3 linked regions of the Homo sapiens genome follow. The protein of the gene in region 2 purifies or fractionates together with the protein of the main gene of each other region. This does not show direct contact. Each region holds a gene or a part of one and is shown on either strand. Other genes may lie near its edges.

Region 1 (2,589 bases), on a different chromosome or scaffold from region 2:
CTTGTCCCATAATCAGGAATAAACAGTAGCTACACTGCCTTGTATGGCAGCCAGAGCGCTGCTTGCTTGCACTTTTAATGATTCCATCAATACCATGTAGATTGAATTAGCAAGGAGAAGTAAACCTTTCATTTCTTTGCCAGACTATATTGGGAAATGAAAATCCGTCATTACTTTTCCTTGCTAGCAATTGTTCGAATATCTGGGATAAAGAAATACATACAGGAAAATGTTAGGGCAGACCAAGTATTAAAAGCTAGGACAGAGCAGGACAAAGGAGGAAGGATAATTCTACTTGTTTGGCAAAGTTACATCAGTTGTCTTACTGACACATCAGGTACTATCTATAGTGGAAATTGAGGCCCGGAGAGGTTAAATGGCATGCCAGTGTCACTTGCTATTTTTCAGAACAAAAATTAGAATCCAGATCTGAATCCTGGTGCAGTGTTCTCTCCTATGCCCTACTGGGCTTTAGTGGGCTAAAGTTCTGAAGCAAGATGTTAAGGGCTAATTGAAATGTGTTTATTCTCCTAGATTCTTTTTCAGCATAGATGGAATCTGAAAAGCACTCAGATATTTAGTGTGTGCTTCCTTCAGCCCTAAATACAGCATTAGCATCAAATCAAGGGTACATTTGTAATAAACCTCAGCAAACCTTACCTGAAGAACCTTTTAAGAAAGTACAGATTTCCAGGTCCTATCACTAGAGATGATTTGGTGTATTTGTGATGAGGCATAAGAGGATATTTTCACAAGATTCTCAGGATTCCAGTTCCTGTTCTGAAACCTTTGGAGGTACAACTATATTTAGGCACCACTGCCATAAACTACCAAAAAAAAATGTAATTCCTAGAAGCTGTGAAGAATAGTAGTGTAGCTAAGCACGGTGTGTGGACAGTGGGACATCTGCCACCTGCAGTAGGTCTCTGCACTCCCAAAAGCAAATTACATTGGCTTGAACTTCAGTATGCCCGGTTCCACCCTCCAGAAACTTTTGTGTTCTTTGTATAGAATTTAGGAACTTCTGAGGGCCACAAATACACACATTAAAAAAGGTAGAATTTTTGAAGATAAGATTCTTCTAAAAAAGCTTCCCAATGCTTGAGTAGAAAGTATCAGTAGAGGTATCAAGGGAGGAGAGACTAGGTGACCACTAAACTCCTTCAGACTCTTAAAATTACGATTCTTTTCTCAAAGGGGAAGAACGTCAGTGCAGCGATCCCTTCACCTTTAGTTAAAGAATTGGACTGTGCTGCTCAAAATAAAGATCAGTTGGAGGTAGGATGTCCAAGACTGAAGGTAAAGGACTAGTGCAAACTGAAAGTGATGGGGAAACAGACCTACGTATGGAAGCCATGTAGTGTTCTTCACAGGCTGCTGTTGACTGAAATTCCTATCCTCAAATTACTCTAGACTGAAGCTGCTTCCCTTCAGTGAGCAGCCTCTCCTCCCAGGATTCTGGAAAGCACACCTGACTCCAAACCAAGGACTTAGATGCCCTGTGTCCAGTGCTGCTGCTGCTTTTACCAGTATCTCTTACCCTTCCGGTTAGAAGAAGTAGAGCTGCTGCCCCCCATGATTCTATCACTCCAAACATATCCCCATGGCCAGGTCTTCCACTTGTAGTCCACTTGATTGTCATATTCATTGCCTTATTTTCCACGAGGAAAATACTTTTACCCATAGTAAAAGCCAAAGACACATATAAAAATAAGATTTTCCTCTTTACTCTCGTCCTTACATGTCCACAGACTTCATGTAGAGAGGCTGAGCCTTTCGACCACAAAGTGTGTTCTGTGTTGAAGATGTTATAATGATGGGAGAGGGCAGTTGCAGCAGCTTCTAACCAAGTGTCTACAACACATGTACTACTGTTTCCTACCTGTGTCACCTCTGCAAAAAATGGAGCTCTGAGCCCAGTTCTGTGAGCATGGTGTCAGAGCCCTCCAAAGTCCTGAGAAATCAATACCAGGGATCCAAATCTCAGACACCAGTTTGAAGCAATACCTGGATACCAAGACTCAGAGTGAGGATATGGATTTTGGGAGCTGACAGTTTTGCTGATCCTGCCACACTGGCAGGGGCTGAAGTCCAGAAATGGTGTGTAGCTCTAGTCATTCTTATTCACCACAGCTCTTATTTCACAGTTTTTTCCCTTGGTTTCTTCTGTTTCTTCTGTTCCTCATATTCAAGTATTTTCTGTTGGAAATAGCCTGTGGGTTCAAATACAGGTGTTAGAGGCATCTGATCTGGTCAGGCAGATTATAATGAGCTCAGGAATAAGGATCAGAAATATCCTGTCTGCTCCCCATACTGCCATCCCTGCCAGGATGTCTCTGGCCTCACAGGTTCTGGAGATCCAGACATTCAGTTTTGTCCAAAAAGGAGCCCATAAACAGAGGATACTTAGCAGGAATTAGCTCTAGACTAAAACAGAGGAAAGGGCTCAGTCCTGTTCACTAATGGGTAAACCAACTTCCACAAAATGGCAGCCCATTAGACATTTTCTTAGGTTTCAGGTTATGTCATTTCAACTCCACTAATAAAAGTCTACCTACAGCTATTTTGTGGGTTTCTAAAGAGAAGTAT
Region 2 (3,734 bases):
CTTTGGGAGGCCAAGACAGGAAGATCACTTGAACCTGGGAGTTTGGGATCAGCCTGAGCAACATGGGTAAGACTCCATCTCTACAAAAAAATTTAAAAATTACCAAGGTGTGGTGGCGTGTGCCTATAGTCCCAGCTACTCAAGAGGCTGAGGCAGGAAGACTGCTCAACCTCAGTTCAAGGTTATAGTGAGCTATGACAGCACCACTGCACTCCAGCCTGAGTGAAAGAGTGAGACTTTCTCTAAAAAAAAAAAACAAAAAAAAGAAAGAAATGAAATCCCAGGCCGGGCAACATAGTGAGACTCTGTCTCTACAAAAAATAAAATTAGCCGGGCATGGTGGCACACGCCTGTGGTCCCAGCTACTTGTGAGGCTGAGGTAGGAGGATTACTTGAGCCCTGGAGGTCGGGGTGCAGTGAGCCATTATTGTGCCACTGTCCATGCAACAGAGCGAGAACCTGTCTCAAATAAAAAAAAATTAAAAAAAATTAAAAAAAGGGCCGGGCAGGGTGACTCATGCTGTAATCCCAGCACTTTGGGAGGCTGAGGCGCGCAGATCACGAGGTCAAGAGATCAAGACCATCCTGGCTAACACGGTGAAACCTCGTCTCTACTAAAAATACAAAATAATTAGCCGGGCGCGGTGGCACGTGCCTGTAGTCCCAGCTACTCAGGAGGCTGAGGCAGGAGAATCTCTTGAACCTGGGAGGCAGAGGTTGCAGTGAGCCGAGATAATGCCACTGTACTCTAGCCTGACGACAAGAGCGAGACTCCGTCTCAAAAAAAAAAAAAAAAGGAGGGAAAGAAAAGAAAGAAAAAGAAAAAGGGAAAGGAGAAAGGGAAAGGGAAGAAAGAAAAAAGGCACAGTGGAACCTTAAATGTATATTGCTAAGTGAAAGAAGACAGTCTGAAAAGGCTACATACGCTATAATTCCAACTATATGACATTTTGAAAATGCCAAAACTATATAGACAGTAAAAACATCAGTAGTTGCCAAGAAGTGGGTGTTGGGGGTGGGGATGAACAGGTGGAGCCCAGGGGATTTTTTAGACAGTGAAACTACCTTGAATGATCCTGTAAGGGTAGATATATGCTATCGTACATTTGTCAGTTCCACCGAATGTACAACACAAAGCTTGAATTCTAACGTAAATCATGGATTTTAATTAATAATGTATCAATATTGGCTCATCAATTGTTAACAAATGTGTCACAATAATGCAAGACTGGGGGAAAGAGGGAGGGAGTACTTAGAAACTCTCTGTACTTTATGTTCAGTTTTTCTGTAATTCTAAAATTGCTCTACAAATTGTCTATTAAAAACAAAGCCAAAAAAAGAATCCATGAGACACGGATAATGAACGGATAGATAAGCAGTTAAGAAGGGAGGGCTCAGGCGGGCACAGTGGCTCACACCTGTAATCCCAGCACTTTGGGAGGCCGAGGCAGGCAGATCACCAGGTCAGGAGTTTGAGACAAGCCTGACCAACATGGTGAAACCCTGTCTCTACTAAAAATACAAAAATTAGCTGGGCGTGGTGGCGGGCACCTATAATCCCTGCTACCCAGGAGGCTGAGGCAGGAGAATCGCTTAAACCTGGGAGGCAGAGGTTGCAGTGAGCCAAGATTGCGCCATTGCTCTCCAGCCTGGGTGACAGAGCGAGACTCCATCTCGGAAAAAAAAAAAGAAGGGAGGGCTCTTCCTTACAGTAGAATGCAGGTTGGTAATTGTGGAAAAAGTGGTGGGGGTGGGAAATTACCACTTTGCATAATTACCACTTTGCACTTAGCAGAGTCAAAACTGGTGCAGTCAGGAATCATGAATGGCTGAGAAATTTATGGGGGAAATTTGACAAGGAACAAGACATTTGAAAGATCTCCAAGTGTCTAGCCACAGATTGTCTATTGGAGACACCAGGCAGTGGACTACCATGACCAAGTGACCAAAATTACTCATCTTCCAATGAATATCGTACACCTCCAGATGTGACCTCTGAGGACACAACATCACTCACGTACTATTTCGGCTGTGGGTGCATAACCTGAATCTAATCATGAGGAAAGAGTAGATAAACCTAAATTGAAAAATATTCTATTGGCCGGGCACGGTGGCTCATGCCTGTAATCCCAGCACTTTGGGAGGCCAAGGCAGGAGGATCGCCTGAGGTCGGGAGTTGGAGACCAGCCTGGGCAACACAGTGAAACCCTGTCTCTACTACAATTACAAAAAATTAGCTGGATGTGGTGGCAGGCGCCTGTAATCCCAGCTACTCGGGAGCCTGAGGCAGAAGAATCGCTTGAACCCGGGAGGCAGAGGTTGCAGTGAGCCAAGATCGTGCCATTGCACTCCAGCCTGATAACAGAGCGAGATTCTGTCTCAAAAAAAAAAAAAAAAAAAAAATTAGCCAGGCGTGGGTGGCAGGCACCTATAATCCCAGCTATTTGGGAAGCTGAGGCAGCTGAATCGCTTGAACCTGGGAGGTGGAGGTTGCAGTGAGCCGAGATCATGCCATTGCACTTCAACCTGGGCAACAGAAACTCCGTCTCAAAAAAAAAAAAAGGAAAATATTCTACAAAATAAATGCAACAGATGATAAGTCACGAGCTGGATTCTAGTCTGGAGGAGGAAACAATTATAAAAGATATTATTAGAACAACTGGCAAAATTGGAATATAAACTGTAATTTCTTTTTTCTTTTTTTTGAGACGGAGTCTCGCCCTGTTGCCCAGGCCGGAGTGCAATGGCGCGATCTCGGCTCACAGCAACTTTCGCCTGCTGGGTTCAAGCGATTCTCCTGCCTCAGCCTCCTGAGTATCTAGGATTACAGCCGCATGCCTCTATACCCAGCTAATTTTTGTATTTTTAGTAGAGACGGAGTTTCACCATGTTGGCCAGGCTGGTCTCGAACTCCTGACCTCGTGATCCACCCGCCTCGGCCTCCCAAAGTGCTGGGATTACAGGCGTGAGCCACTGTGCCCGGCCCTATAAACTGTAATTTCTGTCACTTCTAAATTTTCTGATTTTGGTAACTACACTGTGAATACGTACATATTGTTATACACATTGAATACTGCTGCTCTTAGGAAATACACACTGATTAAGAGGTAAAGGGAAATAACAGGCAACTTACTGTCAAATAGTCGAGAAAAAAAATGTGTGTTTATGTGCTTGTATAATCAGAGAGAGAGAAAAAGAGAGAATCATAAAACAGATGTAGCAAAATGTTAAAAATTGGTGAATGTGGGTAAAAGGTATATAGAAGTTCTATGTACTTTTTCCCATAAATTTGAAATTATCTGAAAACAAAAAGTTTTAAAAAGTATGTTAATCTATTTTCTTCTGGCATAAACTTCCAAAGTGTTGCTGTGGAAAAGTCTGATAACAATCTAAATTCATTCCCTTATAAGTAACTTATTCTTTCTGCCCAATTGTTCAACATATCTTTCAAGTGTAGTAATTCTCTTAGAATTTGTCTTGGTGTTGGGTGTTCAGAGTCAATACTCTGAGATACACAGTGTGCTCATTAAAATGTGTATTTTCAATTAATTTTTTTAATTTCAGTAAAGCTTTCTTGAACTATACAGCCTTTACTATTTGTTCATTCAGACAGTTGATGGTAATATAAACTTAAGCCTGGCCAACATAGGGAGATCCTGTCTCTACAAAAAAAATTTTAAAATTAGCAGGGCATTGTGGTGTGTGACTGTGGTCTCAGCAACTCAGGAGGCTGA
Region 3 (3,734 bases), on a different chromosome or scaffold from region 2:
TTACAATAACTCTCAAAAATAGCTACCATTTCCCGCTTTTAAGGTGGAAACTGGAGCCCACTGCCCAGTTAAGGTCATATAACATTTAAGTGGTAAAGTTGAGACACAATCCAGGTTCTTTAACTCTTCCCATGTACTTTCCACTAATAATGTCTCCTATAATTCCTCATGTAGTGTCCTTCTGTTCAATTTTTAGATATTTAACTTTTCTAAGTCTCATTTTTTCCCCCATTTATAAAATTAGGCTATTACTTGATAAGCTGCATGCTGTGGCTAACTCTCAAATCCACTACCAAGTTTGGATTTAGAATTACTTGTTTGTTTGTTTTTGAGATGGAATTTCGCTCCTGTTACCCAGGCTGCAGTGCAGTGGTGCAATCTCAGCTTACTGCAACTTCCACCTCCTGGGTTCAAGTGATTCTCCTGCCTCAGCCTCCCAAGTAGCTGGGATTACCGGCATGTGCCGCCACACCCAGCTAATGTTGTATTTTTAGTAGAGACAGGGTTTCACCGTGTTGGTCAGGCTGGTGCCAAACTCCTGACCTCAGGTGATCCGCCTGCCTTGTCCTCCCAACGTGCTGGGATTACAGGTGTGAGCCACCGCACCTGGCCTATTTTTTTTCTTTCTTTTTCTTTTTTGGATTTAGAGTTTAAAAACTTTTTAGAGCTAGCCCAGATTCAAAGGAGGGGGAAATAGGCTTCAGCTCTTGAAGGGAGAAAGGTCATATGGGAGGAGTTGTTGTGGCCATCTTTGCAAACAATTTACCACATTCCATAAGGGAAAATATACTGGTTAGACACAGTCCCAGGCTAAGACACAGTTTTTGGATTAGGGTTTATTTTGTATTTATTTATTTATTTTTTTGAGACAGAGTCTCACTGTGTCGCCCAGGCTGGAGTGCAGTAGCACAATCTTGGTTGACTGCAAGCTCTATCTCCCAGGTTCACGCCATTCTCCTGCCTCAGCCTCCTGAGTAGCTGGACTATAGGCGCCCATCACCACGCCGGGCTAGTTTTGTTTTTGTTTTTTTTAGTAGAGATCGGGTTTCACCAGGTTAGCCAGGATGGTCTCAATCTCCTGACCTCGTGATCTGGCCACCTTGGCCTCCCAAAGTGCTGGGATTACAGGCGTGAGCCACCGCACCTGGCAGATTAGGGTTTATTTTTGTTACAGAAGTGAGCATGGGTTGATGTTTGCCTTAAATGTAGCTATTCTCGGCCAGGCGTGGTGGCTCACGCCTGTAATCCCAGCACTTTGGGAGGCAGAGGCAGGCGGATCACAAGGTCAGGAGATCGAGACCATCCTGGCTAACACAGCGAAACCCCATCTCTACTAAAAATACAAAAAATTAGCCGGGCGTGGTGGCGGGTGCCTATAGTCCCAGCTACTCAGGAGGCTGAAGCAGGAGAATGGCATGAACCTGGGAGGCAGAGCTTGCAATGAGCCAAGATCACGCCACTGCACTCGAGCCTGGGCGAGAGAGCACGACTCTGTCTCAAAAAAAATTTAAAAAAAATAAAATAAATGTAGCAAAATAAAATAAATGTAGCTATTCTTGCCAGACTCCTGTCGATTGGTTGTCTTTCAGAGGTATGCTCAGTGGAGTGAGTCTGCCATGGAGGTTGTCTTGACTGTTAGCTTTCAGAATTGAATTCACTGATAGAGGTTGTCAGTGATTAGACTAAGATGAATTGTCATTCATTGATAAATAATACAGAACTATCAGTCTTTCCTAAGAGTATGGGGAGTTTTGTTTTTTTTTTTAAAGTCTCTTTTTTGCAGGTATATAAGAGGAAAACTGAGGCTGCCAAGAAAGAGTATCTGAAGGCACTGGCTGCTTACAAAGACAACCAGGAGTGTCAGGTAAGAGGGATAGGATAGAATGAATATTTAAACCAGTAAGAAGTTTTTTGGAAGTGTTTGTTAGCAGTTTTAAGAAGTAAATACCACCAAGTGATTGATTAATTGATAGATTGATTTATGTCTTCTTTTAGGCCACTGTGGAAACAGTGGAATTGGATCCAGCACCACCATCACAAACTCCTTCTCCACCTCCTATGGCTACTGTTGACCCAGCATCTCCAGCACCAGCTTCAATAGAGCCCCCTGCCCTGTCCCCATCCATTGTTGTTAACTCCACCCTTTCATCCTATGTGGCAAACCAGGCATCTTCTGGAGCTGGGGGTCAGCCCAATATCACCAAGTTGATTATTACCAAACAAATGTTGCCCTCTTCTATTACTATGTCTCAAGGAGGGATGGTTACTGTTATCCCAGCCACAGTGGTGACCTCCCGGGGGCTCCAACTAGGCCAAACCAGTACAGCTACTATCCAGCCCAGTCAACAAGCCCAGATTGTCACTCGGTCAGTGTTGCAGGCAGCAGCAGCTGCTGCTGCTGCTGCTTCTATGCAACTGCCTCCACCCCGACTACAGCCCCCTCCATTACAACAGATGCCACAGCCCCCGACTCAGCAGCAAGTTACCATTCTGCAGCAGCCTCCTCCACTCCAGGCCATGCAACAGCCTCCACCTCAGAAAGTTCGAATCAATTTACAGCAACAGCCTCCTCCTCTGCAGATCAAGAGTGTGCCTCTACCCACTTTGAAAATGCAGACTACCTTAGTCCCACCAACTGTGGAAAGTAGTCCTGAGCGGCCTATGAACAACAGCCCTGAGGCCCATACAGTGGAGGCACCTTCTCCTGAGACTATCTGTGAGATGATCACAGATGTAGTTCCTGAGGTGAGCCTTTGTTTTTAAGTCTTTAGTCTAGTGGAAATGTATAAAAATGTTTTTGGTTGACCCAATAACAGTGGGGGTTGCTACTAGCATTTAATGCCCAGCAACCAGGAGCACAAAACATCCTGCAGATGGGAGTTCCTTGCAGCAGTTGACTTCTCTTACCCAAGGTACTCATACTGTTTTTTTTTTGTTTGTTTGTTTTTGAGATGGAGTTTCACTCATTGCCCAGGCTGGAGTGCAATGGTGCGATCTCGGCTCACTGCAACCTCTACCTCCTGGGTTCAAGAGATTCTCCTGCCTCAGCCTCCCGAGTGGCTGGGATTACAGGCATGTGCCACCATGTCCGGCTAATTTTGTATTTTTAGTAGAGACGGTTTCTCCATGTTGGTCAGGCTGGTCTCGAACTCCTGATCTCAGGTGATCTGCCTGCCTCGGCCTCCCAAAGTGCTGGGATTACAGGTGTGAGCCACTGCACCCGCCCTGTTTTGTTTTGTTTTGTTTTGTTTTTCTTGAGACGGAGTCTCGCTCTGTTGCCTGGGCTGGAGTGCAGTGGTGTAATCTTGGCTCACTGCAATCTCCACCTCCTAGTTCAAGTGATTCTCCTGCCTCAGCCTCCCGAGTAGCTGGGATTACAGGCGCCCACCACTACACCCAGCTAATTTTTTGTATTTTTATTAGAGACAGAGTTTCACCATGTTCATTGGGCTGGTCTTGAACTCCTGACCTCGTGATTCGCCCGCTTCGGCCTCCCAGAGTGCAGGGATTACAGGCGTGAGCCACCGTGTGCCCCATAGTGTTTTTAGTGAGATACATTAAGACAGTCTTCTGCCCCAGACCACTCCTTAACTAAGCAGAGGTCACTAGTTCAACTGGACAGGATATAGCCTAAACAGTTATTATTCAGAGTTGTTACCCAAGGATCCTAAACTTTGGACATGCAAAGCTTTTCATTTCTCCTAGGTCTTAAGTTCCTTAGCTTGATGTTTTAA

What was found.
Region 1: the proteins of PPIL4 (region 2) and DENND2D fractionate together in Homo sapiens (co-fractionation; one large-scale study listed by BioGRID). This does not show direct contact.
Region 3: the proteins of PPIL4 (region 2) and TOX4 purify together in Homo sapiens (affinity purification with mass spectrometry, with the first as the bait; one large-scale study listed by BioGRID). This does not show direct contact.

The regions. Positions count from the first base shown.
Region 1 is NC_000001.11:111,185,469-111,188,057, forward strand, and holds the end of DENND2D (DENN domain-containing protein 2D), read right to left. Parts: intron 2,214-2,589; coding exon 2,137-2,213; 3' UTR 501-2,136; downstream 1-500. UniProt on the Homo sapiens protein: Guanine nucleotide exchange factor (GEF) which may activate RAB9A and RAB9B. Promotes the exchange of GDP to GTP, converting inactive GDP-bound Rab proteins into their active GTP-bound form.
Region 2 is NC_000006.12:149,528,983-149,532,716, forward strand, and holds part of PPIL4 (peptidyl-prolyl cis-trans isomerase-like 4), read right to left. Parts: intron 1-3,734. UniProt on the Homo sapiens protein: PPIases accelerate the folding of proteins. It catalyzes the cis-trans isomerization of proline imidic peptide bonds in oligopeptides.
Region 3 is NC_000014.9:21,490,513-21,494,246, forward strand, and holds part of TOX4 (TOX high mobility group box family member 4), read left to right. Parts: intron 1-1,783; coding exon 1,784-1,864; intron 1,865-1,995; coding exon 1,996-2,745; intron 2,746-3,734. UniProt on the Homo sapiens protein: Transcription factor that modulates cell fate reprogramming from the somatic state to the pluripotent and neuronal fate. In liver, controls the expression of hormone-regulated gluconeogenic genes such as G6PC1 and PCK1.